Linked DNA regions of Homo sapiens: regions 1, 2, 3, 4, 5 and 7 are each linked to region 6. The links come from fine-mapping of genetic effects on gene expression. A gene starts in region 6. Each other region holds a variant in brackets. All regions are shown on one strand. Distances are between the middles of the regions. Region 1 overlaps PLCG2 (phospholipase C gamma 2). Region 2 holds the start of LOC124903731 (a long non-coding RNA gene). Region 3 overlaps PLCG2 (phospholipase C gamma 2). Region 4 overlaps PLCG2 (phospholipase C gamma 2). Region 5 overlaps PLCG2 (phospholipase C gamma 2). Region 6 holds the start of PLCG2 (phospholipase C gamma 2). Region 7 overlaps PLCG2 (phospholipase C gamma 2).

Region 1 (4,066 bases), 83 kb before region 6:
CTGGACAGCGCAGCCCCAGAGTTCTGCTTCTCTAAGTAGCTCCCAGACCAGCAGCATCTACATCACCTGGGGATTGGTTGAAATGCAAATTCTTGAGCCCTGCCCACCACCTACTCAATCAGCCACTGTGAGATGGAGCCCAGCAGCCTCCACTTTCACAAATCCTCCAGGGGATTCCGGTGCATGCTCAGATTTGAAAATTGCCCTCTAGACAGCCCTAATTTTCAACCCCAGCTTCACAGAAGAATCTTATTTAAAAAATTTGCAACGCCAGAGGCCATGCCCAGAACAGTAAAACCCGAATCACTACTGCCGTGGCTCTGCCAAAGCTTCCCCAGGTGACTCTAACATTCTGGAGTCTCAAATAGGAAGCCTATTTGCATTCACGCTGAATGAGATAAATGGACTCACCCACCTGCCTTCCACCTGCAACCCCCTCACCCTTTGCCACCTCCTGGTAGAGTAGTTCCTCTGTCCCTGCCAGGGCTAAAGGACAAAGGGAAGTGCACATTCTACTTATGCAAATCCAATGTTATACGCCAAGGGGGCAAGGGCAGAGGAGGGAAAGGAAGTAAGTGTTGGTGAGGATATGAAGAAAACAGAAACCTGTGCACTGCCTTGGGAAGGTGTAGCTGCTACAGAAAACAGTATAGCAATCCGGCAAAATAAATCCAGCAATTCAGCTTCTGGATATATACACAGCAATCCAGCAACTGATCCAGCAATTCAGCTTCTGGATATATACACAGAGGAATTTAAAGCAGAGACTCAAACAGATTTGTACACCCATGTTCGCAGCAGCACTATTCACAATTGCCAAAACGTGGAAGCAACTCAAGTGTCCATCGATGGAGAAGTAGATAAGCAAAATGTGGTCTATCTGTACAATGGAATATTATTCAGCCTTAAAAAGGAAGAAGATTCTAACACATGCTACAACACAGATGAAACTTGGAGACATTACACTAAGTGAAATAAGCCAGATACAAAAGGACAAATATTCTGCTAGTCCACTTATATGAGGTACCTGGAGCAATCCAATCCAGAGAGACAGACAGTAGAGTGGTGATTTCCAGGGGCTAAAGAGAGAATCAATGGGGAGTTACTGCTTAATGGCTGCAGAGCCTCAGTTTGAGATGATAAAAAGTTCTGGAGATGGATGGTGGTGACGGGAGCATGACAACATGATATACTTCATCCCACAGAAGTACATATCTAAGAACGGTTAAAATGATCAATGTTGTTCTATGTTTCATTGTTGTTACCACAATAAAACAAATTTTAACATTTGTTTTTAATTTTTTTTAATCATAAGGTGATTGGTCAGGGTGGGGAAGGGAAGATTTCTGCATTTCCCCCAGCTCTCAACAGCACAATTGTTTTTATTTTCGTTGTTTTTGGTTTTGTTTTGTTTTGTTTTTGTTTTTGAGATGGGATCTCACTCTGTTGCCCAGGCTGGAGCTCAGTGGCACAATCATGGTTCACTGCAGCCTTGACCTCCCTGGGCTCAGATGATCCTCCCACCTCAGCCTCTCAAGTAGCAGGACTACAAATGTGCACCACTACACCCAGCTAACTTTTTTGTACTTTCTGTATAGACAGGGTTTCCCCA[T/C]GTTGCCCAAGCTGGTCTCCAACTCCTGAGCTCAAGCGATCCACCCGCCTTGGCCTCCCAAACTGTTAGGATTACAGGTGTCAGCCACCATGCTCGGCCAGTAGCACATTTAAAAAAAGAAAAAAGAAAAAAGGAAAAGCAACACCAGTGGGGAAAGTAAGTCTGCAAACCCTGGTGCCACCCCTGACAACCTGGGCTGCTTTAGTCAAGTCACTTAACCTCTCTGGGCCTCAGTGTCCTCACATAGAAAACGTGTCTGAGAGCACCTAGCTCAACCGTCAGCCAAGAGCATATCCTAAGGATGTAAAGTGCTTATTACAGCCACGGCTGCAAAGAAGGCTGTAAACAAATGCCCGCTGCTACCATTTGCCTCTAGAAAAGTCAAAAAATGAAACAGCGTGCTTGGGCCAAGCAAAACACCTAAGACTTGTCCATTGCCCGGGCTGGGCCAGCCCTGAGCCTGCCCCCTCTCGCCTTCAGTCTTTCCTCTGCCTCTGTGGCTCCTTTGTTTTCCTTCAGGAAACACGATTCGTCTCGTGGGTGACAGGAAAGGGAGGGAAATTGGCAGGACAGAAGTCAGTTGCTCTTTCATTGGCATCTTGGTCAAAGTTTCTTTTGCAAAGCTCCCTCCAGGCTTCCCAGAACCACAGGAAAGGTGGGATTTTCCACATGTTGACAGAGAGCAGGGCTCTGCCCACTGGGAGGGAGGTAGAGGAGAGGAAGCCGGTGAGCACACAGGGATGAACTCAGTCCAGAAACAGAAAAGTTTCTCTCTGCAGAGGGTCCTGGACCAGCCGATGGGAAGATGGATCTCTATGCAGGACTTGCCAGAATGCCTCCTGAGCAAGAGGGTGGTATCCATTTCTTGACCTCACAAACGAAGAGCCGACTTCAGAGCCAGATTGGCCATACCATACCAGCACCGCGTGGAGAGAGGCACTGAGGGTGGCTCCCTCTCTCAGCCCTGTGCCAATCTCAGCTATGAATCATCATAAGCCACAGAGAAAGAAAAGTCAGAAGAGGCATCACCTCCGAGGCTGAAAGAGACCAGTGTGTACCAAATCTTCCAACACAAGCACCTCATTTGATCCACCTCAGTAACACGAGAGGGTGGCCCAGCGTGGCGGAGCAGGCAGGGCATTTTGGATGAGAAGAAGAGGACGGAGAGAAAGGCAGGTGGACAGAAAAACATGGAGTGAGCTAATGGCTGACCTAACATTACTAGACTTTTAACCACTTCCTAGTTAATAGTTCCAAATCCTCCCATCGGGCATGTGAAGAAACCAGGGAAGCTCACCCAAACCCTGAAGCTAACAAGTAACAGAGGACACTGACCAGACACGAAGTCACCTTCAAGATGGAAAGATTTTCAGGAACAAAATAAGAGAGCTGACAGAGTTTAGTTATTGGATATTAACTAGGATAATGACACATCTAGATGGGATAATGACATATCCACATAGGATAATGACATAAATAAATCAAGAATGAATGAAAGGAATATTTTACCAAAAAAATAAGGTGCCTCACGTGAGGCTAACATGAGACAAGGACTGAAGAGCTCAATGCAATCCCTGGCATGCCAAATACACGGTTGTTCAATAAATGGTAGGGTTTGGTTTTGGTTTTGGTTTTGGTTTTTTTGGTTTTTTCTTGTCGTGGTGGGTTTTTTTGTTGTTTTTTGTTTGGTTGGTTTTGTTTTGCTTTTTTGAGACGGAGTCTTGCTCTGTCACCCAGGCCACAGTAGAGTGGCGCGATCTCGGCTCACTGCAACCTCCACCTCCCGGGTTCAAGCAATTCTCCTGCCTCAGCCTCCTGAGGCTGAGTAGCTGGGACTACAGGAGCGTGCTACCATGCCTGGCTAATTTTTTGTATTTTAGTAGAGACAGGGTTTTACCGTGTTGCCCAGGCTGGTCTCGAACTCCTGAGCTCAGGCAATCTGCCTGCCTCTGCCTCCCAAAGTGCTGGGAATATAGGTGTACACCACTGCGCCTGGCCAAATGGTAGTTTTTATCATTACATTATCAAGAGCTGAATCATACCTCAAAAACATAATGAATTAAAAATGCTCAACCTCACCCATAAAGAAAGCAAGTTTAAGCAAAAACACTTGGTTGCCTCGGTTGCAGATGAACAAAGATCAAAGTCTAATGGCACAATAAATCATCAGGAAAGGGTGCCCTCTTGCCCCACTGGTAGAAATATTATACAAATTGCTACCTCTCGCTATCAAACTATTAGACCAGCAAACGCTGTGCTGCTGGTATTCGTTTCTGAGAATTTACCCCACTCACAGCTCCCTCAAATGAGTTTACAGAAAGATAGACCCAAAGGTTTCCACAGCAGCATTAATCACAGTAATGATAAAGGATTGGGAGCAGCGCTCTGTGCATCAACACGGAAATGATTTCCGAAATGACAATGCATTAATCTAAAGAAAAACCAAAACTGCGT
Region 2 (4,066 bases), 54 kb before region 6:
TCCCAACAGCAGCAGCAGCAGCAGCAGCTCTGCAGATCCAGGGTCTATCAACCACGTGACGAGTGCTCTCTGTCCATCATCTCAGCGGTCTCTCCCAAAGCCCTAAGTAACTACCATTATCATCAACTCCATTTTGCAGAAGGGGAAACTGAGGCTCAGGCAGGTTGGGCAAGCTGGGGTCTGAGTCCTGCCAGTCTAGCTGCAGGCCCAGAGTTCTCCAACACCACCCGCGCCGGCTCCTGGGCTAAGACTCTCACACAGACCGCCCTCACAATTCTGCCAGCAGCCAGCAGAACACCGAGCCCTCCGAGGTCAAGTTCAGGGCAGAAACACCTACTGGGACAGAGAACAAACCAGGTCCCCCTTACTGAACATTTAATAGGTGTCAGAGTTGACCTCAACATCTCTTTAATCCTCCCACCAATCTTGGGAAGAAAGCCCCATTTTCCAGAGACAGCCCAGGAAGATGAAGTCACCCATTCAAGGCCACCTGGCTGGGTTTTGATGCCAAAGACACCAGGGTAGTCTGTGCGGGTGGCCCACAGTGGAAGGCCCGGAGACAAGGTAAGTCCAGTTACCTCCTGTCCCCATTCCCACGTTCCAGCAGCTGCTCCCTGAATGACCTCTCAGAAAACCTTGGGGTGAACCTGCTAGCTTCTGGCTAAAGATGAATGCTTCCTTTGAAGTCAGGTAAGCCTCTGCAGACAGAGAGATGCCAGAAGCATTCAGCACTCCCATCGCCAAAGGCAATCGTTAGGCAAGACACACAGGAGGCCGGGCGCCGTGGCTCATGCTTGTAACCCCACCACTTTGGGAGGCCAAGGCAGGAGGACAGCTCGAGCCCAGGAATTCCGAGACCAGCCTAGGCAACACCCTCACCTTGGCTGTAAGTTCCCACCTCTACAAAAAAATATATATAATAATTAGCCAGGAGTAGTGGTGCATGCCTGTGGTCCCAGCTACTCAGGAGGATGAGGTAGGAGCATTTCTTGATCCTAGGAGGTGGAAGGTACAGTGAGCTGTGATCACACCACCGCACTCCAGCCTGGGTGACAGAGTGAAATCCTGACTCAAAAAAAAAAAAGATTTTTTTAAATTTTGAAATTGAAAAAAAAAAAAACAGGCAGGAGTATCCTTTTACCTTGTCAGTGATTAACAGGAGAGGCCAGGGGCTTCCAGGTGCCTCCTCCTCACCCACAGGGAACGGCCACCCCGGGCCAGAATACTGGCTCAGGACCCGTGTACCGACCGGAGCCACAGTCCAGGAAAAAGGACCCTGGGGGTGTGGACAGATTGCGAAAGAAGGCCCCAGTCCTCCAGAAGCTTCTCCAGAGCCCAGTGACTCTAACACACAACCAGGCTGTGGCCCCCACAGAAAGGTAAAGCACTCCTTCTTTAAAGGGTGATTTTCATTCTGGGGTTGCTGAACCCCAAACGTGGTATCCTCATGCTGTGGGCTCTTCTCACAGACCAGACTCAGGGAAGGAATGGGTTCTGCGAGGTGGGTGCCAGCAGGAAAGCACCCTCACCTTGGCTGTAAGTCCCCACAAGACACCCCCTCTCTGAGAGGTTGCCTTCC[G/A]CTTCTGGACTTCCCTTTCCAGGTCCTCATCACATCTCACAAGCGTGACTTGTTTCCCTCAGTTACTGTCATGGCCCCAGCAGCAAGCTGGGCACACAGGAGGCCTTCAAGTATCGGCTGACCACTGGCTGCCTGGGCCTCACACGCTGACACCTTCCTATCTGGGCACTTAGCCTGCTCTCTTATGGCTAATGGGTCACCCACAGGGTCTCCCACTAGCTGCAAGGATGGCAGGCCTCTGCCTCATTCTCTAGCTTTGCAAGAATGGGATCTGATCCTCACGCAGTCAACTGGATATCATACCACTCACAGAAGTGTAATTAAAATGGTAGATTCTGCCTGGGCGCAATGGCTCATGCCTGTAATCCCAGCACTAAGGGAGGCTGAGGCAGGAGAATGGCTTCAGCTCTGCAGTTTAAGACCAGCCTGGGCAACACGGCAAAATCCCATCTCCACAAAAAATACATACACACACACACACAAATTAGCTGGGCATGGTAGTGCACATCAGTAGTCCCAGCTACCTGGGAGGCTGAGGTGGGAAGATAGCTTGAACCCAGGAGACAGAGGTTGCAGTGAGCCGTGATCATGCCACTGCGCTCCCACCTGGGTGATAGAGTGAGATCGTGTCTCAAAAAAAGGCAGGGTGGGGACAGATTCTACTCAAAAAGGAAAAGAAGAGCATGCATTAGGGAATATTCACTTAACCTCTTTTGCTTAATCTGAGGATTATTCCTAAAATGTGGCTGCCATGTGGAGCGGAGCCCAGGAGAGAGGCTCTGATGGTGACTGCCACCTCTGACCACTACCACTGTTAACAATGATGGTGAATATCCCCCCAAGTATTCACCATGAGTCAGGCACTGAGCAAAGGCTTTATGTGCATTTCCTCATTTGAGTGCCACAGAATCGCCACAATATCACTATTCCCCCCCTCCATTTATCAAAGGAGAAGACTGAGGCCGGAGGACGACAAAGCCCACTGCTGGTAACTGTGTCCGAGTGCCCAGGCTCAATGGTGGGGCATGACTGGCTCCAGCAAGACAGCAGCCTGCAGAAGTCAGTCCCTTCCGCTAGGGCAAGAGGAGTCACCCCTGCCCCCGCTTTGCCTGTGCAAATGAGTCTTCATTTGTGGTTAGCAAGCCAGCCCTTCATTTCCCCACCAGGCTCAGAGTTTTGCAAACCAAAGTTGGGGGATGGCTAGCGTGGCCTCCCGGCAGTTCCTGTTGCAGACAGCTAGAAGGTAAGAGCCTTCCTTCCCTTTCAGACAAGGCAGGATTGGGGCAAGAGCGGGGAGCCTCCTGGGGTCCCCATTACCCTCTAGCCCAGGCACTTCTGGCCTAAGTTCCCCCTAACACAAGGATCTGAGTCCCACTCGGGGTACAAATGCCTGCTGGACTCCACAGCTTGGGGCTGAAATCTACCTGCCTCCCTCTTTCCCAGCACTGGTCAGAGACCCAGCCAGGGGTCCCAACTGGAGTATGGGGTTGGATGAGGTTCAAATACTAACCCCACCATGTCCCCAGGTGTAAAACTGAGACAAATAGAGAGGGCCAGTTTCGTGGCATTGACATGAGGATTTAAGGAGACCAAGTTCATGGCCAAGTGCTTAGTGCAGTGCCTGGCACACAGCCTGTGTTTAAATGTTTGCTGCTATTATCCACAGATTCTCACGATGATGGTCACGTCCGTTCATTCAGCCATTAGGTCAACAAAGAGTAGGTAAAAGCCAGCGTGCCAGGCACTGTTCTGGGAGCTGGGGATACAGCTATGAATAAAACAGACCAAATTCCTGGCCTCGAAGAATTACATTCTAATAGGAGGAGACAGAGACAAGTCAATATTTATTACACTTGGCAATCACAAGTGCTACAAAAACTAAACCAAAGAAGAGCAAAGCATGGTGTGTGACCAGGAGGGAGGGGCTCTCATAGAAGGTGTTATCAGGGAGGCCTCCCCAGAGGTGGTGACATCTGGGCTGATGTCTGAGATAGAATATTTCAGGCAGAGCAAATAGTAAATGCAAAGGCCCCAAGATGGAAATGTGTATGGTTGGTTGTAGGAAGAGCAAGGTTGTCACCAGCTGGGACACACTGCGTATGCTCTCTGAAACCCTCATGACCCGCAGTGCCTGTCCATCTCCCCTCTCCTGCCTGGACATTCTAGTCACGCTGTCTCTGCACTTGCATATACCCTCAGTCATCCAGAAGCCCGATGCCCCCCTCACCCTTCCCATCCCCCTCCACTATCACACACTGTGTCTGTCAGTCTCCTCCAGGGTCCTCTGGAGTCAGCTGCAGCCCTTGGCAGATGATTTTGCCATTTCATTCATATATATACATATATAAAATATATGTGTGTATATATATATATACACACACACACACACACACCCCACACATTTTTTTGTTGTTGTTTTTTAAGACACAGTCTTACCAGGCATGGGGGCTTATGCCTGTAATCCCAGCACTTTGGGAGGCTGAGGCC
Region 3 (4,066 bases), 100 kb before region 6:
CTACTGCTCATCTCTATCCACGCCACAGGCATGGGATGGCCAATTCCCCAGCAGGGGCCCCCTGCCCCTTTGGAGGTCAGCGCCTGCACACACAGGCATCCCCTCCTGGAGGCCGGCTGGGCACCAGGCACCGAGGTCCGGCACAGCCGCCCCGAACGACACACAAGAGCTGCCTCACCCCAGGATGAACACGGACGAATCCTTTTTGAATTCATCGAGAATCTGAAATGGAAAGCACACACAAAAAAAAGAACCTTAGACAAGTCACTTAATGCAAAAACGGAAAGATTTTTGTTGTTAAAAAAGCATCATTTTGTCAGATGCAACAAGATCATTAAAAATATCATTTTAGTTGATGTTAGTTGTAAATATTCAAATATAACAGAAACTTAAGAAGCAAAAGGTAGAAGCCCTCCTCATTCCCTCCACAGTCGTATTCCCAAGAAGCAGTCACCCTTAAGCATTTCATAGGTTTCCTTCTAGAATTTGTTTTAGGGATATTCATTTAATGGTATCATATCATATTATAACATTTACGTACATCTCACAATTTTTTGCTGTGTTTCAAGCTTTACATATTATTCTGCAACCTCAAATAACCCTGTTTCCTTTCTTTGAAAAACCATTGTATTCCACAATAAGCATGTCACTTGATTTTTGTAACATCTAGTATTATTTTTAAGTGTCCCTGTGTGCCTATTTCTCTATCTTTGCCCACTTGTGCCAGTTTTTCTACAGAGTAGAGTCCTAGAAGGAAAAGCGCGTAGACACAGCACATTGTAGGCACATTGGCTTTGATAAATTCTGCCAAGGTGCTCTCAAAACAGTTGAGATAGGCACCTCCACTGGGGTACACATACCTTTTTCTATATCCTCACTGCCAGGTTTCTTTAGAGATGGGGTCTCACTGTTACCCAGGCTGGAGTGCAGTGGCACGACCATAGTTCACCACAGCCTCACTCTCCTGAGCTCACATGATCTTCCTGTATTAGCTTCCTGCGTAACTAGGACTACAGGCATGCGCCACCATGCCCGGCTAATATTTTTTCTTTTTGTAGAGATGCAGGTCTTACTATGTTGCCCAGGATGGTCTTGAACTCCTGGCCTCAAGAGATGCTCCCTCCTGAGCCCCCTCAGTAGCTGGGATTACAGGCAACATTTCAAATCTTTAGTATTTCAAAGATGCATTTCTAATCTTCGAAGGCAAGAAGACGAAAGAAATATCGGACTGCTTCAGCTCCTCTCTTCACAGCCCACTGCCGTGCCAACTGTTGCATGATGAAGAGGCTCTTCCACCAAGGGGGGCGCCATGGAGCACCCCTCCCTCCAGCTTCTACTTGCACCAGCCCATTTTCTGTGCATTGTACACAGGCACCCTGCACACCCACATCTTGTCCATTTCTGCCCAGGTAGCCTTGCTTCAACAGTCTTCAATGACACTGCGATTGGATAAGCACTTAGGGAAATGTATCCACTATCACATGATCAATGCTAACGACATAAAACATCTCCTACCCCAGATGACCCAGGGTCCTCTTGCTGAACTCCTTGCAGCCCAGGACGTCATGGGGACTATCAGGGTTCTAGAAAGGGAATCGCAGGCCTCTGAGAAGCATCAGAGAGTCCACATCAGTTTGTGTGGGTGTGTGTTTCTTCTGGAGACATAATCAGCATCTCAAAGGAGTAGGTCCCACCAAAAGGTTAAGAGCCGCAAACTTAGCCTTTTTAGGCAAACTGAGAAGTACTTCCTTTCGTTGATGTGTAATTTACAGCATAGGTATTTCTTTTTAAAAAGGGGTGGTGTTGCAGATTTTAGACAGGGCATGTTGCTATTTGGACTCATTTACTGCTTAGGTCACCAAGTCAGCCTG[C/G]TGCTGAAGGCATCAGGGGCTAGAACACTTCCAAGCCCAAAGCCCCACACCCAGCTTATTTACATCTGGAGGGAGCCCAGTGTGTGGCCCCCCTCACTGACCACCACATGCAATTCTTCAGCCCTCTCCTTCCTTTACATTCCTTTCAACAAAGCACAGAAAAAGCCCGCACCGCATTCCCCCACTCAGGGAGCTCGGACAATGGCAGAGGTACCACCATGGTACAGATGCTCCCAGAACCAGGAAAGACCTGGCTTCCCCTCCTCTGCCAGGTCTTGCAACTCCCTGCCCGGACACTCTGCTTGTTGAAGCAACCGGAAGCTCATTGGCACAGGCACCTGGGAACGTGTTTGCAGGAATTGGCCCCTGGGACGCAGAGCAGGACAGAGAATGAAAAAGAACAAATGAAAGCCAAGAGCCACAAACGCTGCAAGAGAACCAACAGTGAGAGGCAAGATAAGGAAGACAGTCGGGCATCCCAAAGGCAAGTTACAACATCAAGGAGAGAGTGACCAGCTTTGACACGTGCTGCTGAGTGGACAAGATAAAGACCACGGGGCAGACTTCTGGATTCGCAACACATGGAGGTGATGGCTGACGTGCCAAGATGAAGTGCTCTAGGAGGCAGGGATGGAAACAAGACGGGAATAGACTCAAGAGACAGTAGGAAGAAGGGAAGCGTAGACAGCTCTTGGAGTAGGTTACTTTAAAGGGGGCAGATAAATGGGGCTGTAGTTGACAGTATGGGGCACAGGTGATCAAGGAAGACGTTCTAAAGATAGAAAAAGTTATAGCTAGTATTATGTATAGGATGGTGTCCCCGGGAATATATGTCCAAGTCCTAATACCCAGTACCCATGGGCATGACCTTCTTTGGAATTAGGGTCTTTGCAAGGTGCAATCAAGTTAAGATGAGGCCTTGCTGGGTTAGGGTGGACCCGAATCCAGTGCCTGGCTTCTTAAAAGAGGGAGATTTGGGCCGGGCACGGTGGCTCACACCTGTAATCCCAGCACTTTGTGAGGCCGAGGCAGGCGGATCACTAGGTCAGGAGATGGAGACCATCCTGGCTAACACAGTGAAACCCCATCTCTACTAAAAAAATACAAAAAATTAGCCAGGCGTGGTGGTGGGCGCCTGTAGTCCCCAGCTACTCGGGAGGCTGAGGCAGAAGAATGGCGTGAACCCGGGAGGCAGAGCTTGCAGTGAGCCGAGATGGCGCCACTACACTCCAGCCTGGGTGACAGAGCGAGACTCCCTCTCAAAAAAAAAAAAAAAAAAAAAAAAAATTAAAAAAAAAAGAGGGAGATTTGGAGACAGAGAAGCACACAGAGAAAAGGGGTCCATGTGATGATGGAGGCAGAGACTGGCACAATGACATCTACAAGCCAAGGAGCGATGCAATGACATCTACAAGCCAAGGAGCGATGCAATGACATCTACAAGCCAAGGAGCGATGCAATGACATCTACAAGCCAAGGAGCGATGCAATGACATCTACACGCCAAGAAGCGATGACGCCTACATGCCGAGGAGTGATGGTGTCTGCACACCAAAGAGCAATGCCATCTACACACCGAGGAACACTTGTAGGACTGCTGGCAGCCACCAGCAGCCAGGCGGTGTCCACACTCCGAGGAATGCTTGAAGCATTGCTGGCAGCCACTAGAAGCCATGAAAGATGTCTGGAACACATCCTTCCCTGGAGCCTTCCGAGGGGTGTGGCCCTGCCAACACCTGGATTTTGGACTTTTAACCTCCAGTACAGTGAGGGAATAAACTTCTGTGTTTTGTTGTTTTGTTTGTTTGAGACGGAGTCTCGCTGTGTCGCCCAGGCTGGAGTGCAGTGGCGCAATCTCGGCTCACTGTAAGTTCCGCCTCCAGGTTCACGCCATTCTCCTGCCTCAGCCTCCCAAGTAGCTGGGACTACAGGCACCCGCCACTATGCCCAGCTAATTTTTTTTGTATTTTTAGTAGAGACAGGGTTTCACCGTGTCAGCCAGGATGGTCTCGATCTCCTGACCTCGCGATCCGCCCGCCTTGGCCTCCCAAAGTGCTGGGATTACAGGCGTGAGCCACCGTGCCCGACACTTCTGTTATTTTTAAGCCACGAGTTGCAGTACTTGCCACAGCGGCCCCAGGAAATGAACATGGGCTCCATGAGCTGGGGCAAGACGGTGACAGTCTCAGTCACTCC
Region 4 (4,066 bases), 64 kb before region 6:
CAATGAAAACAGTGAAGGTGTGGGCCAGGCACAGTGGCTCACGCCGGTAATCCCAGCGATTTGGGAGGCCTAGGCAAGCAGATCACTTGAAGTTGGGAGTTTGAGACCAGCCTGGCCACCATGGCAAAACCCTGTCTCTACCAAAAATACAAAAATTAGCCGGGCATGGGGGCATGCACCTGTAATCGCAGTTACTAGGAAGTCTGAGGCAGGAGAATCACTTGAACCCATTGTGGGGGTGCAGAGGTTGCAGTGAGCCAAGATCACACCACTGCACTCCGGCCTGGGCAACAAGAGTGAAACTCCATCCGAAAGAAGAAAGAAAAGAAAGGAAAAGAAAAATGAAAAGGTGCCCGGGCGCGGTGGCTCACGCCTGTAATCCCAGCACTTTGGGAGGCCGAGGCGGGTGGATCACGAGGTCAGGAGATAGAGACCATCCTGGCTAACACGTGAAACCTCGTCTCTACTAAAAATACCAAAAAAAAAAAAAAAAAAAAAAATCAGCCGGGTGTGGTGGCGGGCACCTGTAGTCCCAGCTACTCGGGAGGCTGAGGCAGGAGAATGGCATAAACCCGGGAGGCAGAGCTTGTAGTGAGCCGACGTCACACCACTGCACTCCAGCCTGGGCCACAGAGCAAGACGCCTTCTCAAAAAAAAAAAGAAAGAAAGAAAAAGAAAACAAAAGAAAAACGAAAAGGAAAAAGGAAAAGGAAACAGAAACAGAAAAGGAAAGGAAAGGCGTGTCTGTCTGCAATGGAAGAGAAGCAGTTAGACACACAACCAACGGCACATCAAACCCGGCATCCTGCCCATTCTATTGAGTTCTTCTTTCATCCCAGCATTTGCTTCTGACAAGCAAACTACCAACCAGGGTCCAATTTAAATGAATCTTTAGTATTTTAAGCAGATCATTTCATTGTTTTTTCCATTACAGTACAAGGTAGTTGGAGGATAGAAGAATATCCTAATTCAGAAACATTACTGTATAGTATCCTATGTACTTTTTGCAAACATGCTTAGCAATGGGTTCATCAAAGCACCCAAAAATTGGGCATTTGTTGCTGTAGATGCTTTGTATTCACGCGAAAAATATTGGTAGGCTGATTTTAGGTACTTAAGGTTGTTAAGTGATACTAAGGAAATTGGCTGGGGTGTTTCAATCAGTTGGTAATGCATCAGCGCTTGTCTCTGTGTAATATGATGTAATATATTGCAATCCAAAAATGTTCCTCTCCAGTGTGTTTTCAGGAATGTACTGGATTCAGCTAAGAAGGAATGTGCCTATTTGTAAGTGTGCACGTATGAGTGTAAAGGTGTGAGAAAGGGTACCAAAAGATTTCCACCAACTTGCTGACAACAGGCACTACTAGTGAGAAGGAGATGGGCAAATGATGGTCAAGGAGGGCTTTGTCTGCATGGGTTCAAATTTTTGCCAAGGGCTCATAGTGACTGAAACAACACTTTATTCTCAAAGTAGGCTGTGGTCAGCAGACCTCAGGCCATGCACTCTTGCATGGTGGGGCTCAGTGGCCGAGTTTCCTGCTTGAAGAAAGTGAGATAACCCAGCCACAGAAATGAGGCTTCATCTTTGCACAACCCCACCCCCTTCCCAGCATCACCTCGGGTCTTCCCAGGTCCACCCCACCCCCACCACCCATCCCTCCACTCCCACCCCCTGCAAACAAACCCCCACACACTGAGTCTCCTAGAGTCAGCCTCAAAGGCCGGCACCCCACTCCAGCCACCCTCCCTCAGCCCTCCCTGCCTACCCATCACCTTCTGGCACAGCCTTGCGGACTTTTGGCCCCTCCGTACGTCTCATAGCTTCCTCTCACTCCCCGCTTTACACCACCGACCCCTTTGCTGGCCGGGCCATGACCCTGTTCTTCAAGCTCCCATTTCCTTCCTCCTCCCGCTACTGATTCTCTGTCTCTCTCAGGCTCCCTGCACCCACGGAACGTCCTCCCACCCCTGACACCAGGAACATGGCTTTTTCCCCAATTCCCATACATGACCTCAAGGGGCACCACACCTGACAATGAGCTTAACAAAAATTTCTCTCTGGAAGCTCAAGACATATTCAAGCGAGCAAACAGACAGACAGAAGGCTTGGGCACCTTCCCACACATACCCCAACCTCTTTTCCGACTTTCAGTTATTCAGTCAACCAGGCAGTCACAGAACCCCACGCTGAGCGCTAGGGATGCCACACTGCAGAGACAGACACAGTCCTGCCCTCAGACGGCTCCGAGTCTGGGAGGGAGGACAGGCCCTGTCCAGGCCGGCATATGATATGTGAATATCCACATCTCCATCCACATCAGGAGTGCAACAGAGTCCACACTGGGGCTCCTCCCCAGCAAGGGGAAGAAAGGCTTCTCTGAGCACATGCATCCTGGCTGAGTTCTGCAGACTGGAGCTCACCTGGGAAGAAGAGGAGAAAGCCTC[C/T]CTTTGTAGGGAGTTCTGGAGTACAAAGACCTTGGTTCAAATCCTGGCTTATGCTCCCCAGGGGTGCACAGGAACCAGGCACGTTGCATCCCTTCTCTTTGCTGTTTCCTCCGCTGTACAAGCAGTGATGCTTATCATTGAGTTGTCATGCAAACCAAATGAAATAACATGAAATAAAAATCACGTGGCCCCAGGAGGGCTCCACCAAGGTGAGTTTAGCTACTAGGCTGAATGGTTTTCTGTACCACCTTGCAACACCAGCTTCCCAGCTGCTGGTGGTTTCACTTTAAGTAAAAAGCCCCAGCGTTGCTTACTGATCTCAGCCAAGGACCCTGCTTTAAGAAAAACCAAAGGTGTTAGGTTACTTCACACATGTAGCAGCGTCTGACATGGCAGCTGGGGGAATAGGTGAGATACACAGCAGAAGAACATGTAATGACAAAAGGGGCTTCCGAGGCACACACGGTAGAGCAGAAAGAGCCCAGCTCTAGAAGGATCTAGCAGGCATGAGTTAAATCCAGCTCTTTCTCTCCTGGCTGTATGAAGAAGCCTCTATTCTGGCTTACTGTCTATTTTCTCATCTATGAAATGGAAAAAGAACATACACCCTATAGAGATATATCTGAAAAAAAACTTTGCAAAAAGTAAAGTTTACAGCCGGGCGCAGTGGTTCATGCCTGTAATCCCAGCACCTTGGGAGGCCGAAGTGGGCAGATCACTTGAGGTCAGGAGTTTGAAACCAGCCTGGCCAACATAGTGAAATGCTGTCTCTACTAAAAATACAAAAATTAGCTGGGCATGGTAGTAAGCGCCTGGGTGCCTGTAATCCCAGCTACTCAGGAGGCTGAGAAGAACGGCTTGAGCCCAGGAGACGGAGGTTGAAGTGAGCCAAGATCATGCCACTGCACTCCAGCCTAGGCGACTCAGTGAGACTCTATCTCAATAAATAAATAAATAAATAAATAAATAAATAAATAAATAAATAAATAAAGTTTACTTTTTGGCCTGCAGATAGGGGGTGGGCCTGCCCTTATCTTCTTTGTTAAAAAGATAATAAACAACAGAGTTGTTGCCACTGCGCTGACAGCAGAGGCGAAAATCAGTGTCCTGCTTCCATGTGAAGAGATTCTTCCCAGATCATTATGCTCAAATAATTAGGTCTGTGATTCTAATGCTTCATATTCATGCAGAACTATTCAATAGATAAGAGTTTTAAGTGATACTGGGGAAACTGGTGCTTCTCTCCCCTCTGGGACTCCCCATCCCCAAGGGAGGAAGGGACCACTCCCTGGAAAAAGGAACTGAGGATACTCAGCCTCTTCATCTTGTTCTAGCTGGATCCACCCCCAAGGGACCACGTGCCCTGCCCTGTTCCTTGCCACTCGGAAGGGAGCTGCCTCCAAGACAGGGGTCCCCAATCCCCAGGCCATGAACTGGCACCTGTCTGTGGCCCGTTAGGAATCGAGCCGCACAGCAGGAGGTGAGCAGGGGTCTAGCGAACATTACTGCCTGAGCTCCACCTCCTGTCAGATCATCAGCGGCGTTAGATTCTCATGGCAGCACAAACCTTATTGAGAACTGCACATGTGAGGGACCCAGGTTGTACACTCTTTATGAG
Region 5 (4,066 bases), 89 kb before region 6:
GTGGAATATTGGGGGCAGGTCAAAGGATGCTTGATAAGCAATAAAATGGGATAATTTTTCCAGGAGCTCATTAATACAAAAATGAAATGAGCTTTTTGCACTGAGGAACCTTGTAATGGAGCTGATATTGAAAATGGGCATTGGAGTCCTCCAACTGGGGCTGTTTGGATGCAGGGTTGCTCATTTCCTAAGAAGAATGAGTATTTCCCTGTAAGCAAAAATCGGTGCCCATTGTCTCCATCCTTGCCTCACCTGCTCTACTATATCCCATCACTCATGGAGTGGCTTTACTGCCCAGACCCACCAATAACTTGATTACACAACAAAATAAATTTAATGATGTATGGAAGGATGGATGGTTGGAGAAACAGAAGAAAAAAGAGCCAACTCTGACAGCTACACTACCAGGACTTGCATACAAAATGCCACGGTCCTGGTACCCTACACAAGGAATCTTTCATAATATTTTCCAAAAGACATACATGCATTCATTTCACTAGGGAAAAAATGGGCTGCAGTATGGTCAGGGAAATAGGGAAAGCTGGACTAATGGAAAACAGGTCTGAGGGTAGATGTTCCAAGTCCAAGAGCTCAGTAAACATGGTCTTTATTGATTACATTCTCTGCTAGGATTGAGACGATGGTCCTCAGATATGTCCATGATCCCTCTGTCTGAACTAAGATGTACTCTGGAGGCAAAGGATTTTCTTGTGCACTATTCCACGGAACTCAAAGGCAAGCCACGGCTTCATGAGAGAGGCTAAGTCACTCCGCATTCATAAAATTCCCAGGCTGAGCCATGAAACTTACCACAAACTTATCTTTAAGGAACTTGGCACTGCTCACTTTAAAGTTGATCAGGGGCAAGATGGTCTTCAACTCTCGGAGACTGATGCTGCAAAAGAGGGAGACCCAGTTCTGTCACCTTGAGGGTTTTCAACAGCACAGGATTTAGCTGCTCCCATCAGTTCCCACCTCAGGCAGCCCTCTATGAGAGAGCCTGGTCAACAGTTATTTATGGACCACTAACTGGGAACAAGACATTGAGTCAAGGTAAGGGTGACACTTCAATGAGCAAGGCTCAAGCAATGTCCATGGACATGGGTCACATAGCAGACTCACAGGGTAGGGTGATGCCCCAATAAGGAGGGCTGGTCTCCACCCTTCAGGTATGTCCAGGGACATAGGTCACATAAGAGATTTATAGCGTACAGTGATGCCCCAATGAGGAGGCACCTACACTGGAGATCCCCAGTATAGGGTGATGTCCCAGTGAGAAGGGCTGGTCTCCACCCTTCAGGAATGGTCATGGAGGAAGGTCTTGCAGGAGATTCAGTGTGGGCAGAAAATGATGTCAAATGACCAGATAATCTCAATACAAAATGCCACAGAAATGCCAAAGGCCCAATATAGGTGTTGACATGATGTGATTTCTGCCCAGGACTCTGAATGTCAAAGTGAAGAAATTCAATGAAGCCTGGGTAAACATCAGGAGTAACTATGACACTCTTCATGTAGCCAAATGCTTTGTCACCTAATTAGCGACACACATGAATGGATGAACAAGACTCCTACTGACTCTACCTGCCACCCAGAGGAACCAAAACCACAGGACGGGCTTGGCAGAATCAGCCAGGAAAGACCCAGCTGAATTTGACTCTAGTCTGACACTGTGAAGAGACAAGAGGGATGCAGAGTAAGTGGGGACCCCCTGCACCCCCAAAAATAAGTAAAAAAATAAAGGTTTCTTTTAATGCCACTGGGGTTCAGAGCAAGGCAAGGTCACTAAGGGCCAGGGAGGGGAAGTGGGAAGGAACAAGGCCTACATGAGCACCTACTGTGTGCCAGGCTGCCCTGGGGTCATCCAGGCATTAAAGTTGCCTAATTGTTCACCAGATTCTACCTTCTGCAAAGTACACATGGTTGACCCCCAGGGCTCAGAACAGCCAAGGGTGGGGTGTCACATGGGTACACAACTCAGGGCTTAGAGCTGGATGGCAGGCAGCAGAGCCTGGATTTGAATCAAATTCCAGTGCTCGGTCACAGGAATCTGCATGAGTGTTTCTTCGAAGCCACATAGTGAGGTTCAGCTGAAGCGGGAAGCGAGGGCCAGGCAC[G/T]GTGGTGGCTCACGCCTGTAATCCCAGCACTTTGGGAGGCTGAGGCGGGCGGATCACGAGGTCAGAGGATCGAGACCATCCTGGCTAACACGGTGAAACCCCGTCTCTACTAAAAATACAAAAAAAATTAGCCAGGCATGGTAGCAGGCGCCTGTAGTCCCAGCTACTCAGGAGGCTGAGGCAGAAGAATGGCGTGAATTCGGGAGGCGGAGCTTGCAGTGAGCCGAGATCACGCCACTGCACTCCAGCCTGGGTGACAGAGCAAGACTCCATCTCCAAAAATAAAAAAGAAAAGGGAGGGAAGCAAGGGAGAACACGTCCCAGGCAAAAGGAGCAGCAGCAGCAGTAACAATAGTAACAAAAGCTGAAACTTCAATAGTGCTTATCAGGTGACAGGTGTTGTTCTAGGTGGTGCCTTATATGCACATTCACCTGTTTGATGTTTGAACAATTTTACAAGGCAGGTACCATGATCATCTCCATCTTCCAGGTGAGGAAACTGAGGCACCGATCAGTTTGGTACCTTATCTGTGCTAGCCTCAAACTCCAACCCAGTGTGCCCATAATGACCACACCTGACTGCCTCCAAGCGAGTAGCTCACACAAGAAGGAGAAGTGAAATTAGTGGGGTGGGTGGGTCAAGAATATGAGATCCAGACCCTTCTGGCTGGAGCCAAGTGTCCAGCAGAGCTGAGACAGAGTGGTCAAGAGAGGAAGCTCGCCCCACCTTGCAGGAGAAAACCACCTAGTTTCCCTGTACCATCCTCCCAGCTTCTGCTGTGGCATGCGGAAGGAAGTAGCGCGTCACTGCCCAGCCGCTGCCCTGGAGACGGTCCAGTGTGACTCTGGCCATCCTGTGTCCCCACCTCCAGCCTTTCCTCTGGTTCTAAGGGCCTCTGTAACAGCACAGACTTCAAATGACAAGATGCTCCCCACCCACTTACTGGTACCACAGGGACAGCACCCACGGCTTTCACAGACAGACCTTGAGGGCAGAAAAAGTCCCTGTTGGGCCAGCTGGGGCTGGCTGGGCACAGCGGCCAGCAGGCTAGGGAAGTTGCCCCAGGGGCTTGCAAGAACCTTTCTGCCTCAGCCCTGGGAGTGGTCCAAGGAACAGCTGGGCCAGGGCAGGATGAAGGTGGAGGAGCAGTGGGAACAGGCGCTACCAGAGCGGCAGCGAGAGGGGTCGTGGGGAGAGGAGCCAGATCATGCTGGTGCCCCAGTGGAGCCCATCCTGGGAGCAAGGGAGAGGCCAGTGTCCTCTCATGCTGGTGCCCAGTGGAGCCCATCCTGGGAGCAAGGGAGAGGCCAGCGTCCTCTCACGCTGGTGCCCCAGTGGAGCTCATCCTGGGAGCAAGGGAGAGGCCAGCATCCTCTCATGCTAGTGCCCCAGTGGAGCTCATCTTGGGAGCAAGGGAGAGGCCACGTCCTCTCATGCTGGTGCCCCAGTGGAGCTCATCCTGGGAGCAAGGGAGAGGCCAGCGTCCTCTCATGCTGGTGCCCCAGTGGAGACCATCCTGGGAGAAAGGGAGAGGCTAGCGTCCTCTCATGCTGGTGCCCCAGTGGAGCTCATCCTGGGAGCAAGGGAGAGGCCAGCGTCCTCTCATGCTGGTGCCCCAGTGGAGCTCAACCTGGGAGCAAGGGAGAGGCCAGCGTCCTCTCATGCTGGTGCCCCAGTGGAGCCCATCCTGGGAGAAAGGGAGAGGCTAGCATCCTCTCATGCTGGTGCCCCAGTGGAGCTCATCCTGGGAGCAAGGGAGAGGCCAGCGTCCTCTCATGCTGGTGCCCCAGTGGAGCTCATCCTGGGAGCAAGGGAGAGGCCAGCGTCCTCTCATGCTGGTGCCCCAGTTGGAGCTCACCCTGGGAGCAAGGGAGAGACCAGCATCCTCTCATGCTGGTGCCCAGTGGAGCCCATCCTGGGAGCAAGGGAGAGGCCAGCGTCCTCTCAT
Region 6 (4,066 bases):
AGATGGGGTTTCACCATGTTGGTGAGGCTGGTCTGGAACGCTTGACCTCAAGTGATCAGCCCAGCTCGGCCTCCCAAAGTGCTGGGATTACAGGTGTGAGCCACCGTGCCTGACCAAGAAATGTTTTCAAAAGTTTTCTCACCAGCAGCTTTTCATTGACTCTACCCAATGAGTGCAAAAGGGCTATTCATGGGGTCTGTGCTTTTCCACTTCCAGAGGAACTGCCCATACTCCAGTCGCTGGTGGGGGAAGGCAGCTGCATCATTAGGTGACTTAAACATCAGTGAGGCTCACAATGACGATTGTCCCTGAGCTGGTATACACGTGACTGCACACACACCTTTGCAAGAGAAACTGCTTGAGGCTGGCATAGACTTCAAAATTCTGTAAAACTTCCCCGCAGAACTGTAGTCAAGGACGAGGGCCCATGCCCCAGAGAATGCCCTTGAACCAGAGAGTCAGGAACTGCCCAAGGACTCTCCATGGATGCGCCCCGATTCTCAGCGAACCTCGTGGAACAGCAATAAGCCCCAATTCTCGACACAGCCCTGGAAAATTGGGTGGCTCCAGTATCCAGAGGGGGAAACAGACTCAAAAAGGTTCTTCAACTTGCCCAGGGTCCCACTGATGGAACTGAAATTCAAATTAAGTTCCGACGGGCAAGGCCACCTGTTTCCCTCGCGCCATGTCACCCCTTTACCACCCCGCCCCCCATAGTTTCTCACCCTAGTTCAAGATTAGGGTACCAAGAGAGCCCCGCCCCACCGTCCTGCTGGAATCCAGGAGCTCCCCGTCCAAACGGGGCACGTCTTTAACCTGAACTCTTGCGCTGTGCGGGTAATGCCCTCTTTGGGATTCCAAAACACAACAAAACACAACACGCACAGACACACGCATAATTACGCAGACAGCTGCGGAGCGGGCATCGCGAGTGTCCTGCAAGCTCTCCAAAAGTCTCCGGGAAGGACTGCGCCTCCCGCGGTATCGCTCCCACCCGCCACCCGCAACCACCGAAGTGAGACAGGGAAGTGTGGCTCCGAGCGTCCGCGAGCTCTGGGCACAAGGGCCGTCAAGAGAGACGGCGCCACCCCACGCAGAGCCGCTCGAAAAGAGGAGTTTTGAACGCCAGCCCCCACACGACCCCTGACCTTCCTCCCGGTCCCCATTCAAAGCTGGGGCCGCCCCACCGCACGGACCGGAGAGGTGGCGCCGGCCCGGGGTGAGGAAGTGGCCAGCGGCTGGGCCAGGATCCCTGCCGTCACCAAACGGACCCCGGGCACGGCGGGCCGGGGTCCCCGAGGGTGCGCCCCGTCCCTGCCCGCTCCGGCTGAGCCAGGACGCAGACCCCCTCGGACGCAGCGCCCTGGGAGCCGGTCCCCGCGGGGCGCAGGTCCCTGGGCGCCCTGCCTGCCTCGCTCCCGGCCGGGCAGCTCACCTGGCCGTGCCGCCCGGGCACAGCTGCCCGCCTGCCCCGGGTTTGGGCTCCGGGGTCCCGCGCGCGCAGCCCGCGTCCCGACTCGGGTCACTCAGCGCCGCTCACGCCCTCCGCCGCCGGCGCTCGCTACTTCTGCTTCGGCCGCGGCGCCGCGCCACGTGATCCTCGGGGGCCGCCCCCCGCACCGCCCAGCCTCGCCCCGCCTCGCCCCGCCCCAGGCGCGCCCAGCCGGGTCCGCCTCTCGGAGCGCACCCCGAGTGCAGCGTCCCCGCGCCCTCCCCGCCATGGAGCGGCCCAGGCCTGGAGCCCCGCCTCTGCGTGCCAAAGAAGAAACTGAGGCAACCCGAGGGGAGGCTACCTGCCCGAGGCCACTTGGCCAGGTGCAAAGGGAATTCCCCAATATCATGGCATTCCTGGAGAGCCGGCCGCAGTCCAGGTGTTTGCCGTATACTTAACACACTCCCGGCCGGGCGCCCGGGCTCACGCCTGTCATCCCAGCTCTTTGGGAAGCCTAGACGGGAGGATCGTCTGAGCTCGAGAGTTCGAGACAGCAATGAGCTAGGATGGGTGTGGCCGAGAGACACTCCGTCTCAAAAATAAATAAATAAAAATTAAAAATAAATATACTCTTCACAATTACCCGCCAGGAATTGCCAATTCATGGCCCTAATTTGAAGCCCTCGTTGAGGCTGCGCTGGAGTCAGACCAACCCTTACTGCTACCTTAGGCAGACCACTTAAAAACCGACAGCCTCAGTTTCCCCATCTGTAAAACGTGATCAACATAGTGCCAGCCCCAAAGGGAGTCAGGAGCAAAGAACCCCAGACAATTGATGTCCCGTTTTCCTGATCTCATGGGAAGAAGCTAATATGTTCTTTAAGAAATTTATTTTTCCGTTCGTGTGTTGCATGAAGCTATCTGATTCAAACCCTTCCTATGCTCTTTGATGGAGGTATCTTTGTTGTGACTAGAGGCAGTTTCAGGGGCACCTAGACAGCTGTCAGGCACTTGAATTTCACTTCCAAGTTGCTTGAGTTATAGCTTCTGTTTTCTAAGAGGCAGGGTCTCACTCTGTCACCCAGGCTGGAGTGCAGTGGTGCCATCATAGCTCACCACATCCTCGAACTCCGGGACTCAAGCGATCCTCCTGCTTCTGCCTCCTGAAGAGCTGGGACTATAGAGGCACACCACACTTGGCTAATTTTCTCTTTTTTCGACATGAGGTCTCACTATGTGTCCCAGGCTGTTCTTGAACTCCTGACCTCAAGCAATCCTCCTGCCTCTACCTCCCAAAGCACTGGGATCACAGGCATGTGCCACTGGTCTGTTATAGCGTTTTTTTTGTGTGTGTGTGTTTTTGGTTTTTTTTGTTTTTTTTTTTGTTTTTTTTTTGTTTTTTTTTTTTTTTGAGACAAAGTCTTGCTCTCTTGCCCAGGCTGGAGTGCAGTGGCACGATCTCGGCTCACTGCAACCTCCACCTCCCAGGTTTAAGCGATTCTCCTGCCTCAGCCTCCTGAGTAGCTGGGATTATAGGTGTATGCCATCATGCTTGGCTAATTTTTTGTATTTTTACTAGAGACGCGGTTTCACTATGTTGGCCAGATTGGTCTCAAACTCCTGACCTCAAGTGATCCACCCACCTTGGCCTCCCAAAGTGCTGGGATTACAGGCATGAGCCACTGCACCCGGCCTGTTATAGCGTTTTTTAATTGAGGAATATCACTCTCACTGTCAATGTTGTATCCCAAGCCATAGGACTCGTTTGTGACTTCACAAGATCTGTGGATTCATTTCTTTCAGCACTCCCAACTGGCGTGTATAGCTGTGCTCATCACCACAGATCACTTAACACATCAATTTTTTAAAGAGATCTTGGAAGGACTCATTATGACATCAACCACTTGAAGTCATTGGGCCAATTCCCCAGGAAAAATGACTACATCTAGGGGCAATTCCTTTGCCTCACTTTTTTTTTTTTTTTTTTTTTAGAACTTCAGCTTGTATTTATTTCAACCAATCTTTTTCACACTTTTGTTTTAGTATGTGTTATATAAAGTACATAATATATTAGTTCAGTCATATATATGTATAATTTATTATTACAAAGTCTACATGGATAGGGGAGTGGGTTAAGTCTCTTGATGGCAAAATGAGATTGCATATAATCAGAATGTGTGGAGACCACTCTAGGGAGCCGTGGCTCCTAAAAGCCTATCTTGACAGATGCCAATTCTGGCTGGATTTTTCTCTCATCTGTGGGAAGCAAGCAAAAAAATAAGAACATGAAGAACAGGTTTCTCTGTTTAATCTATGCCTGTGAGCCTATAGTATTTTTGAGTTAAAATGTCCACTGTGTGTGAGATAATGGTCATCGTAAATGGCAGTTTGCTTTTTTTTCTTTCATGTTTTTAATTCATTTTCTTCTTTGGCTCATTTTTTGCTAACCAACCCCTAGCCCAACCCCACCCCCCAGGTGAACGACTGAAGGAATCAGTGGATTGAAAGAGAGTACTGGAGGCCCTTCATCTCTTTCTCAAACTCTAACTTGGTTGTTCAAAATAAAAATAATCTGCCAGGTGCAGTGGCTCATACCTGTAATCCCAGCACTTTGGGAGGCCAAGGCAGGCGGCT
Region 7 (4,066 bases), 120 kb before region 6:
TCAAATTTCCCCAGTTATCCAAGAAATATACTGTATAGATGGAGTTTTTCCCACCAAGAATCCATCTGAGGCTTGTGCATGGCATTTACTATGAAACAAAATTATTCTAAAGGCAGCTATGTCACTTCCATAAATAGGAAATCACGTCACTCAATAGAAATGAAGGCAAATGTGAAAATAAAGTGACGATGATAAAAATAAAATCCTTAACCATGTTCCAGCTCAAGTAAATCATAGCCTCATCACTCCTGGGAAGCGTGGACCCAGCTCACTCCCCGATCCTGATCCACACACCCTTACTAGAACATAACAGCTAAAAAGCTTTTACAACAAAGGCTACCTAGTAAGTTGGTATCAAAATGTAACTGACAGCAAAATCTGAACCATTCGAATGAACGCTGCTTGCAATCATTTTCTTAAATCCCTCTTAATACCAATAAGGATGGCTTTTGCTGCCAAAACATTAATGCATTAATGTTTGATTACAGAGTTCTAGCCCTATAGGTGTTAGATGATTCCAGCCCTATTTTAACCAGAAAAAACTTCCTCTAGTCATGAATGAGATAATGTTCGATGAATGACTGTCAGCTCACAACCATAAGCACCTATGTCCTGCAAATGAAAGCAAACTCTCAAAGCAGAGTGTAAGCTGCCACTGCACAGTGTCTGTTAATACCAGCTCCTTCCATCTGCCTGATGGAGGTTGGCACTTAGAAGGGCTAGGACCCCACAGGGGAGAATGCTGCGATGGAGAAATCATATGCCTTCATTGAAAGGTTTTCACCAAGTGCGAAAAGACGTCCATAATTTCATTGTCTCACAGCAACACCTCCACCCAGCTCAAGGGACATCTGCAGTAAATGCAATAAAAATAACCAATCGGGTTGGGCACGGTGGCTCATGCCCATAATCCCCACACTTTGGGAGGTTGAGGCGGGAGGATCACCTGAGGTCATGAGTTCAAGACCAACCTGGCCAACATAGTGAAACCCTATCTCTACCAAAATACACAAATTAGCCGGGCATGATGGTGGATGCCTATAATCCCAGCTACTCGGGAGGCTGAGACAGGGGAATTGCTCGAACTCAGGAGGTGGAGGTTGCAGTGAGCCGAGATCCTGCCATTGCACTCTAGCCTGGGCGACAGAGGGAGACTCCATCTCAAAAAAAAAAAAAAAGAAAAGAAAAGAAAAGAAAAAAAGAGAAAAAATAATCGATCTTATTGACTCAACAGTTACTCTATGCCAGGTGCAGGGTTAAGCACTTGCTGTAATGGCATCTCATTTAATCATCACAACCGCCCTGTGAGGTGCACACAGTTATCACCTCTATTTTTTAACATGGAAATTGAAGCATAGGATGGTAAGTGCTTTGCCCAAACTAGTACTCAACAGCTGGATTCAAACTCAGCGAGAAGGACTCAGAACCCATACTCGTAACTGCTATTCTACCCCAGAAAGTATAAAAAGACAACTATCATTCCAATGAGCCTATAGAAGGCCTCTTGCCAGCTCTCAGAAATAACAAGGAACCCAAACCAGGAGTCGGCATATGATGGCCTCTGCCCCAAATCTGGCCTGCCATCTATTTTTGTAATGTGTAATTCAAGTTTTAACTGGAACACAGCCAGACTCATGTGTTTACCTCTTGCCCATGGCTGCTTTGCACTTCAGCAACAGGG[C/A]TGAATAGTTGCAACAGAGACCACAGGGCCCATAAAGCCTGAAACATTTGTATCTGGCTCTTTATAGAACAATTTCGTTGACCTCCAGCCCAGACCAAGATCTTCTGGTGGGACAGAAAAGGATTACACCTGAGGTCAGAAACCCTTGAAATGAACCTAAATGTTCTCACCCATTTAACCCCTCCTTGTCTCAATTTACTCATCTGTTAAATGGGGATGACCATACTCACTTTGTGGCAAAGAATCAATATGATCACCTGTACAAAGAACCTAGCACAGAGCCTGGCCCCAGGTGGGTATTCAAAAAACACACCACCACCATTACTGGCTGCTTGGATTCCGCCTGTAGAAACAGGTTTGGTGGGGGTGAGAACTGGGCACAAAAGAGGGAATTAGGACAGAAGGGGAATTTTACTTTCCTTGCCTCACTTTTTTTTTGGTTTTTGTTTTTTTGGGTTTTTTTCCTTTGAGACAGGGTCTCGCTCTGTTGCCCAGGCTGCAGTGCAGTGGCGCAATGTGACCTCACTGTAACCTCTGCCTGCCAGGTTCAAGCAATCCTCCCACCTCAGCTTCCCAAGTAACTGGGACTACAGGCACATGCCACTACACCCAGATGATTTGTGTGTGTGTGTGTGTGTGTGTGTGTGTGTGTGTGTGTGTGTGTGTGTGTGTGTGTGTGTTTTGGTAGAGAAGGGGTTTCACCATGTTGCCCAGGCTCTTCTCGAACTCCTGACCTCAGTGATCACACCTCAGCCTCCCAAAGTGCCGGGATTACAGGCGTGAGCCACTGCGCCCAGCCTTTCCCTCTCTTTCGGGGGTTCTGAAAGTGGGGGCCAGACAGAATGAGGAGGTGGGGTGGGCACTGAGCAGCCACAGGGTTCCCCAGCCAGAGCCTCCTCGGGGCTCTAGAGCCCGGGAGCAACTTGCACTCTCGGCCTGCAGGGGGTGCCAACACTCGGGTGAGAACTTGATGGCAGTGGCTTTGGCCAAGATGGGGCCCAGGCCTTCCCGCATTTGGAGGGAGGTGTCTGTGTGTGTTTGCCTGTCTGTCCATCTGTCTATCCAACCCTAGCTGCCTTCCCCTTTAAGTCACACCACCCAGAAATCAGCCAACTGACCTCGAGGTAACAAAGGCGTGGTCTTTGATGGCCTGCACGACGTCGTCAAACTTGATCTTGGTAGTCCGCGTCCAGCCATGGTAGATGACCGGCTTCCCATCGGGCCCGTCCCAGCAGTCCACTACAGGGAGAAACGCGGCAGCCTCAATACCACGTGTGTTCACTGACAGCCCCGAGGTCAGCCCCCGGCCCACACACCAGTTCAGTTACTAGACAAGGACACCCACACTCCCTCCATTCGGCTGCCAACACGAGGACATGGCTTTCCCTGTATCCGCAGGGTTCCCTGTGCGCTTACATAATGCAAGTGCAGCTGTCCAAGACAAGCTAGTTTCAATGCTGCTTTTTTTTTCATTTTTTTTTTTTTTAAGACAGAGTCTCGCTCTGTTGCCCAGGCTGGAGTGCAGTGGCACAATCTCGGCCCATTGCAATCTCCGCCTCCCGGGTTGAAGCAATTCCCCTGCCTCAGCCTCCTGAGTAACTGGGACTACAGGCGCGTACCATCACGCTCGGCTAATTTTTTTGTATTTTAGTAGAGACAGGGTTGCACCATGTTGGCCAGGGTGGTCTCAATCTCCTGACCTCATGATCCATCCACCTCAGCTTCCCAAAGTGCTGAGATTACAGGCGTGAGCCACCACGCCCAACCTCAATGCTTCTTTTTAAAGAAGATTTTACCACGTGTTTTATTTTCTGACTTTACCTGTTGAAAACCTTGACTGCCTTTTCTGCCCGTGGAAATGATACAGAGCAATGAGAAATTTATTTGTAAAGGTTCACAGTAATATTTTCAAACAGAAATGGGTCATGTGGAAGATGAACATCCCCAATCTTTTGGACCCCTGGAGGGCACAGGAGCTGACTGCTTCAAGCTTTACTTTTAAACATTTGTTTTTTCCTGAGGGAGGAGAAAAATCATAAACGGGAAGAAAGTCTATAGAGTAACTGCTACAAAACGTTGCTTCCATGATGAGTCGTTTTGGTAACACTGGAGCCTAAGTCAGTAGTTGATGCCTTTTTTATTTTATTTATTTATTTTTTATTTTTATTTTTTTGAGACAAAGTCTCCCTCTGTTGCCCAGGCTGGCGTGCAGCGGCGCGATCTCAGCTTACTGCAACCTCTGCCTCCCAGGCTCAAGTGATTCCTGTGCCTCGGCCTCCCAAGCAGCTGGGATTACAGATGTGCACCACCACGCCTGGCTAATTTCTGTATTTTTAGTAGAGAAAGGGTTTCGCCATGTTGGCCAGACTGATCTCAAGCTCCTGA

Evidence for each region. PIP is the estimated chance that this variant, and not a neighbour inherited with it, causes the effect. A credible set is the group of variants that fine-mapping cannot tell apart.
Region 1: its variant is the best candidate, but not a certain one, in a credible set for the expression of PLCG2 in lung (TOPMed, PIP 0.56).
Region 2: its variant is the best candidate, but not a certain one, in a credible set for the expression of PLCG2 in whole blood (TOPMed, PIP 0.89).
Region 3: its variant is the best candidate, but not a certain one, in a credible set for the expression of PLCG2 in atrial appendage (GTEx, PIP 0.61).
Region 4: its variant is the best candidate, but not a certain one, in a credible set for the expression of PLCG2 in whole blood (INTERVAL, PIP 0.51).
Region 5: its variant is the best candidate, but not a certain one, in a credible set for the expression of PLCG2 in whole blood (INTERVAL, PIP 0.74).
Region 7: its variant is the best candidate, but not a certain one, in a credible set for the expression of PLCG2 in prefrontal cortex (GTEx, PIP 0.82).

The regions. Positions count from the first base shown.
Region 1 is chr16:81,860,233-81,864,298 of GRCh38, reverse strand. The region is part of intron 5 of PLCG2 (phospholipase C gamma 2); the gene reads right to left. Among named protein-coding and RNA genes, the nearest start is that of PLCG2, 83 kb to the right of the region's middle. The variant T/C (reference allele first, on the strand shown) is at 1,613.
Region 2 is chr16:81,830,554-81,834,619 of GRCh38, reverse strand. The region is part of intron 2 of PLCG2 (phospholipase C gamma 2); the gene reads right to left. It overlaps LOC124903731 (a long non-coding RNA gene), which reads left to right and starts at 2,726. Exons shown (of 2, transcript XR_007065139.1): 1 at 2,726-2,822. RefSeq lists enhancers at 1,473-1,522, 2,213-2,794, 2,795-3,376. The variant G/A (reference allele first, on the strand shown) is at 1,580.
Region 3 is chr16:81,877,066-81,881,131 of GRCh38, reverse strand. PLCG2 (phospholipase C gamma 2) reads right to left here. Exons shown (of 33, transcript NM_002661.5): 8 at 179-222. Among named protein-coding and RNA genes, the nearest start is that of PLCG2, 100 kb to the right of the region's middle. The variant C/G (reference allele first, on the strand shown) is at 1,872.
Region 4 is chr16:81,840,578-81,844,643 of GRCh38, reverse strand. All of the region lies in intron 2 of PLCG2 (phospholipase C gamma 2), which reads right to left. Among named protein-coding and RNA genes, the nearest start is that of PLCG2, 63 kb to the right of the region's middle. RefSeq lists an enhancer at 1,853-1,912. The variant C/T (reference allele first, on the strand shown) is at 2,449.
Region 5 is chr16:81,866,043-81,870,108 of GRCh38, reverse strand. It overlaps PLCG2 (phospholipase C gamma 2), which reads right to left. Exons shown (of 33, transcript NM_002661.5): 6 at 811-895. Among named protein-coding and RNA genes, the nearest start is that of PLCG2, 89 kb to the right of the region's middle. The variant G/T (reference allele first, on the strand shown) is at 2,118.
Region 6 is chr16:81,776,794-81,780,859 of GRCh38, reverse strand. PLCG2 (phospholipase C gamma 2) reads right to left here and starts at 1,569. Exons shown (of 33, transcript NM_002661.5): 1 at 1,436-1,569. LOC105369213 (a long non-coding RNA gene) reads right to left here. Exons shown (of 4, transcript NR_189584.1): 4 at 3,507-3,688. RefSeq lists silencers at 1,264-1,343, 1,354-1,453, 1,484-1,753, 1,782-2,076.
Region 7 is chr16:81,894,661-81,898,726 of GRCh38, reverse strand. It overlaps PLCG2 (phospholipase C gamma 2), which reads right to left. Exons shown (of 33, transcript NM_002661.5): 13 at 2,800-2,920. Among named protein-coding and RNA genes, the nearest start is that of SDR42E1, 110 kb to the left of the region's middle. The variant C/A (reference allele first, on the strand shown) is at 1,682.